2 linked regions of the Homo sapiens genome follow. The protein of the gene in region 2 interacts with the protein of the main gene of each other region in a pairwise test. Each region holds a gene or a part of one and is shown on either strand. Other genes may lie near its edges.

Evidence for each region.
Region 1: the proteins of ASPH (region 2) and DHRSX interact in binary tests that used the Homo sapiens proteins (3 or more experiments, as listed by UniProt).

What each region holds. Positions count from the first base shown.
Region 1 is NC_000023.11:2,490,977-2,494,476, reverse strand, and holds part of DHRSX (polyprenol dehydrogenase), read left to right. Parts: intron 1-3,500. UniProt on the Homo sapiens protein: Oxidoreductase that plays a key role in early steps of protein N-linked glycosylation by mediating two non-consecutive steps in dolichol biosynthesis.
Region 2 is NC_000008.11:61,515,593-61,519,092, forward strand, and holds part of ASPH (aspartyl/asparaginyl beta-hydroxylase), read right to left. Parts: intron 2,532-3,500; coding exon 2,440-2,531; intron 2,070-2,439; coding exon 1,936-2,069; intron 1-1,935.

The DNA of each region.
Region 1 (3,500 bases), on a different chromosome or scaffold from region 2:
CTCAGCCAAATAGTAATAAAATAGAATATAAACTTTTGTTCTGTTACTGGGACCTCTTTCAGCCTAATAACAAAAGTAATAATAATAGAATAAAAACCTTTGCTCCAGGTTCTAGAACCTCTTTCAGCCTAATAATAATAATAATGATAGAATGAAAATTTTTGTTCCAGGTGTCGAGACCTCTTCCAGCCTAATAATAATAATAATGTAATAATATAAGCCTTTGCTACAGGTACCAGGACCTGTTTCAGCCAAATAATAATAACAGCAATGATAATAGAATATAAACCTTGGCCCCAGGCACTGGGACTTCTTTCAGTCAAACAATCACAATAATAATAATAATAATAGAATATGGATGTTTGCTCCAGCTTTCAGGACCTCTTTCAGACAGATAATAATAACCGAGTACAAACTTTTCTTCCAGGTATCGGGACCTCTTCCAGCCTAAAAACAATAGTAATAATAGCATATATATCTTTTTTTTTGTTTTCTTCTTTCTTTGAGACGGAGTTTTGCGCTTGTTGCCCAGGCTACAGTGCAATGGCGCCATCTCGGCTCACTGCAACCTCTGCTTCCCGGGTTCAAACGATTCTCGTGCCTCAGCCTCCCGAGTAGCTGGGACTACAGGCATGTGCCACTACCACGCCCGGCTAATTTTGTATTTTTAGTAGAGGAGGGGTTTCACCATGTTGTCCAGGGTGGTCTCAAACTCCTGACCTCAGATGATCCACCCACCTTGGCCTCCCAAAGTGCTGAGAGTACAGGCGTGAGCCGCTGTGCCTGGTGCCAGCATAAAAATCTTTGCTACAGGTACTGAGACCTTTTTCAGCCTAATAATAATAACAACCGTAACAATAATAATTAGAATATAAACCTTTGTTACTGGTACTGGGACCTCTTCCAGCCTAATCTTCATAATAATAAAAATAATAATAATAATGGAATTGAAACCTTTCCTTCAGGTTCCAGAACCGCTTTCAGCCACATAATAATAATAATAATGATAATAATAATAATAAATAGAATTTAAACTTTTGTTTGAGGACTGGGACCTCTTTCAGCCCAATAGCACAAATAATAATAATGGAATGTAAACCTTTTCCTCCCAATTACCAAAACCTGTTTCAGCCAAATAATAATATGATGATGATGATGATGGAGGATCTGATACAGCTGTGTCCTGTCACTCAGGTCGGACTTAGGAGGCCTCTTGAGATTCTTTTCCCCCTCCGTTGACTGTGTAATCCAGGGGCCCCACCCTAACTCGGCTGCAGAAGATGCAGTTTGGGGGTTCCTCGTTTTGTGGAAGTCCCGGTCATGTTATTCATTCTCTCAGCACCTTAGAACAAACCAGGGTGCTGGCATTGGCCACAGGACCCCCCTCCTTGCACCCCAGTCTTGGGAAGTGGCACTGCTGGGCTCTGGCAATGCCCAGCTCACCTGGCACGTGGCGGCGTCTCCCTAAAAAGCACTGGGCGGGCACCGTTGACGGAAAGCCAGCAACGCAGGCCGCGACTGCCCGTGAAGACGGGGGGCCTTTCTAAGACCTCCACTCATTATTTCGGGCAAAATTAACCTTCAGAATACCTTGCTTTAATAAAGTACCAGAAACCGGAGGGCTTAAAACCATAGCTTATTCTCTCCCAGTTCTGGAGGCCAGAAGTCTGTAATCAAAGTGTCTCAGGGCTGCGCTCCCTCCGGAGGCTTACGCGGAGGGTGCTTCCTGCCTCTCCCAGCTCCTGGGGGCTCCTGGCGTCCCTGGGCTTCAGGCCAGCCACATCATCACTCTAGTCTCTGCCTCTGTCTCCATGTGGCCTTCTCTGTGTCTGTGTCTCCTCTTCTGTCTTTTATAAGGACATCTGTCACTGCATTTAGGGCTCACTCAAATCCCGGATGATCTCATCTCCAGATCCTTAACTCATGAGATCTACAAAATTTCTAATAACCAAGTAAGATCTCATTCCACATCCTGGGCTTTAGGCTGTGGACAGATCTTTCTGCGGGCCACTGTTCAATCCACCATGATTTTATCCAGTTCATTGTGGAGGCTCTAGAGGAGGATCCTTCCTGCCTCTCCCAGCTCCTGGGGGCTCCAGGCGTTCTGGGTTTGTGGCCGCATCACTCCAGTCTCGGCCTCTGTCTCCATGTGGTCTTCTCCTGTGTGTCCGTGTCTCCTCATCTGTCTTCTATTAAGGACACTGGTCACTGCATTTAGGACCACCTCAATTGAGAATAATCTCATCTAAAGATCCTTACCTTCATTATTAATACATCTGCAAAGACCCTTTTTCCAAACAAGGTCCCATACACAAGTACCAGGTGGATACAGATTTTCTTTGGTAGGGGAGGACGCTTTTCAACCCACTATAGTCATCATTGAAATATGCCTCCTTGCACTGACTGTATCCCAACACTCTGAACGTGCCTGGGTGGTGCATTTTGATATTTACCCTCCTGAGCACTGTACTGGACACTTGGAGACACAATTACACCTTTTAACAAAGCCCAGCTGTCATTTTGGGCAACCCAGTCACAGAGGTGGCCTCCTGAGTGGCAGCTGGAAGGGCCTGTATGTGTGAGCATTCAACCTCAACAGGAACCCTGGGGACTGGCTTCTGGGTCATCTAAGCCTCCACACCGACTGCCTGATGTTTGCACAGGTGTGTGATATTTGCCCAGTTGGGCCTTTCTGCCCACAGGTGTGACTGGACACAATGGGCATTTTGAGAAGTTCCAGGGATTGAGAAATCCATGCTTCTTCAGACGTGCTTACAGATCACGGATGCACCTGTGACGTTCCACATGGCTTCATTTTAAACCATAAAGTTTGAGAAGAGTGTGCAGTGCCTCTTAGCCATAGGAAAGCTGGCTTTAGTCAGATGGAGGTCCTGTTTGGCTTCTTTAATGCAGTGAATGAAGCTCAGGTGGCATTCAGAGAGTCCTGCTGTGATGGTTGGCAGTGGGGGGTCTGCCTGGCCACTTGTGGATTCTTCTATGTAGGCTTCATCCCCAGAAAAGATCTACGCAGCTTTCCCACGTGGCAGGTGCTTGGGAAACTCTTAGGACAGGAACAACAAGCCCCTGCGATGACAGAGGCATTGTCAGGCTGGGCGCGGTGACTCACGCCTGTCATCCCAGCACTTTGGGAGGCCAAGGCGGGTGGATCACCTGAAGTCAGGAGTTCGAGACCAGCCTGACCAACATGGTGAAACCCTGTCTCTACTAAAAATACAAAAATTAGCCAGGCGTGATGGCAGGTGCCTGTGATCCCAGCTACTGAGGAAGCTGAGGCAGGAAGATCGCTTGAACCCGGGAGGCGGAGGTTGCAGTGAGCTGAGATCACGCCATTGCACTGCAGCCTGGGTGACAGAGCGAAACTCTGTCTCAAAAAAAAAAAAAAAAAAAAACTAAAGGCACTTGTCAGGTACAGCCCTGCAAAAATGCCGTGCTCACTCGCAAACCTGTATGTTGACACGTGCGGCATCGCTGCAGTCGGA
Region 2 (3,500 bases):
TCTCCCCTGAGTGCCAGGTCTCTATTTCCAGCCACCTCCTGGATGGTTCTACAAGTGTGTTCCAATAGCAACTAAATAAAATACATAAGCACTAAATTCATCTTCCTTTCCTTGAACTTGCCTCATGCCTCCCAAATTCCCAAGGTTTGCTCAAGCATCGCCACCCTCCACTGTCCAAAGACTGCAATTGCAGCAGCATCTTGGATGCCCCATTCCTGTATCACACATTCAAGAGTCACCTCTTGCATCTGCTCTCTAGTCTCCATTTCTTTCCAGCATCCCAATTCCAGCTCTGTTTATCTTTTGGGTGGGCTGCTGTGACAGCCTGCTAATTGTTCTTCCCACTGTCCCCATAGGATTCACCCATGGGTTCCACAGTAACTTCCTAACAAAGGTCTGATCCCATTAGTTTGGGATTCAAAGCCTCCTATGATTTAGTTTCTAAAAGACTCTTTCACTTTGCAACCTTATTCTTTATGTACCATACACTGCTGGCTGCTGAATTATTATTCAATATTCTTCATATGTGGCCATAATTTTTGGCCTCTGTGCCTTTAATGGATACTGTTCCAGAATACCCCTCTTTAGCTTTCAATGTCCGAATCCTTCTTGTCTTTAAAAACCACCACTCTGCAAGTTGAGTGTCTGTGAGCAGGTGAGGCTCCTGCTCATGGAGCCATCTGTAGTATTTTTAGCTTATCTGTAGAGAGGCCATCTGTAGTACCTCTTCTATGACCACGGTGGCCTTCAATCTTGTGTTATCTTCCTGAGCAGACACACCTTGCTAGGTGTCCTCAGAAGAGGACGGCCCCTTCTGAGTCATCTCTGAATTTCCCACAGCACCATGGGCTGCCCAGGGCAGTTATCTGCCAATAATCAAATAGACAATTCTGCAGACCCCTGAACACTCATCCTCCACTCAGACCTCTACTAAGAACAATAAGAAATGTGTAAGACAACAATAACTTGCTTTCTGATCTCCAGGAGCTTACATACAGCTTGCTATGGAGATAAGGGTAATATATATTAATGAATAAAGAGTAATAGAAGATAGGAATGGGATTACTGAGGATATATACTCTGAGAGGTTCTATTTTTATAAAACTAAATTGGATCTTAGTAATAGGTTTATTTTGGACAGGTGAAAAGACGGGCATTCTAGGGACAGAGATTATCAGCATCATAGGTACAGAAGCCAGAGCAAGTATGGTTTGTTCAAAAGATCATGAATAAACATGTCAGGATTAGGAAAGTAACACGCAAGGGAGGGAGAGGAGATCTAACATTCATCACGTCCCGACTGATACCAGAACATGGACTGAGCACCTTATAGGCATTATTCCAGTTAATCCATACAACAACCCTGCAAAGTAGATGTTATCACTGCCAATTTTATAAGCAAGAAGGCTGATGTTTGAAGGGATTAAGTAACTAGCCAAGGTTACACAGGTTAGGTGTTAGAGCTGGGATTTGAAAAAGGCAGCCAGCTTCCATTGCACCATACCATCTCCTCTATATCAAAACGTATAAATATCATGGGGTGAGTTCTTCAGTTAGGGGTACTTCTTGTAGTCATGAATAAGTCAAGTTGCAAAGCAGGAAGCACAATGCATAACATCTGCAGGGCTCAATGCATGTTGGCTGACTCTGAATGCACATCTGTCTACCCAGAGAGAGAAACAAGGCAGCTCCTCAACTAGATAAGTACTCTGCCGAGAAATAATGGAGGAGGGCAGCCCTAGAGCTGGGCAATGTCTCCAGGCTAATAGAAAGCACCAAGAAGGGATATAGACTTAAGAGTTTGGATTAATATCACTTTGCTCCAGTCTACTTCAGCTACAAAAGAAGATAAGTAATCCAAAGGAACACAACTGTGTTGTAACAAACTCTCATCCTCTGAGGTGACGGATATGACGGATAACAGAGGACCCATACTTGGTCTCGTTGGCACATCGAATCTTGCAGCCTTCCTTGGGAATCACCAAGCCCAGGTGCATTCGGAGCCTGCAGTTTGTGGGCCCTGTGTGCGGCCACACGTGAGTCCCGGGGTGCATGATGGAATATTTGATCTGCATAGAAAACATGACACTCCATTCAGCCATTTATCAAGGTGTGGAGGAACTGCTAAGTTAAGGTGACAGTACAAAATTACTGTCAGTTTGGATTAGAGCCTTTGTAAGATTTAATATTTATATTCAAGTCTTATTTCTTTGTGAAGGAACTAAAAATAAGCACTCACATTTTCCACAAAGCTATAAACACTGAACATTTTCCACCCTCAATTCTGACGTCAACCACATAAAATTATGTTTCAGTAAAAAGGGCATGTAAAAAGAGGCATTCATTGGGCCAAAGGAAACAACCATTTCTTTGTAAAGGTCAACACGCCCTTATTCCTAACAATTAATTGTATTCTCCCCAGCACGACACTCTTGGTACCTGTCCTCTTCTGCATCCTGTTGTCTCGGGGAACTTTTCTAGTAAGGTACAGGTTTTAGGAGCTCCTTTGCAGGCATTTTCATTTCTTCTTCCTAGAATAAATAACATAATTGTTGGAAACAAATCACAGTAAAGCTTAAACTTATCCCATTTAGATGAGGTGAGAGCTATATGTCATCCTCACTGCAGGAATGAGAAGATTGAGTAAACATGAGAAGATGAAGTAGGAATGCAAAAGGCTTATTGGAAATAAATAAAAATTTATCAATAAAGAAGACGTGTCTTGCTCCAATAGGTAGTGACTGGCAGAGCAGGGATCCAAATTCTTCACTCGGTGTTGGACTATTTGACTAAGAATGTCTAACAGACAAGACACAGGTTAAAGGCCTTTGACCTTGAATAACACAGGGATTAGGGGCTTCGATCCTCCATGCATGTTAAGTTTTGACTCCCCAAAAACTTAACAACTAATAGCCTACTGTTGACTGGAAGCCTTACCCTATATCATAAATAGTTGATTAACATATTTTGTATGTTATATGTATTCTATACTATAGTCTTACACTAAAGTAAGCTGAAAAAAAGAAAATGGTATTAAGAAAATAATAAGGAAGAGAAAATACTTTTACAGTACTGTACGGTATTTTATCGATACCATAAGTTTACATCATCTGTTTACAAGATGAATTGAATGTCTGAAATGGCCTGCAACTACAGGTACAGACCTTAATCTACAGTACATATCAATCAATTCAACTTTTTCTTGTAGGGTCATGACTTTTCTCTGCTTCTTGGCAGCGTGTCCATCATCATTAGTTGCTCTTTGTATAGGTCCCATGGTGTTATTCGAGGTTTGCAGCATTGCATTAAACACAAGGAAAAATACACAAGAACCATAAGAGACCACTTTTCACCGTGATATGCAATTTACCAGAGAGAGGAACTGCTCACATGGAGACGACAGTATCACATGGTATTTTAAGCAGATACTGAAAACACTTGAGCTTGCCGAATAGCAACAGGAAGCAGCTATGAAATTATTACAGTAGTATAATCTGTAC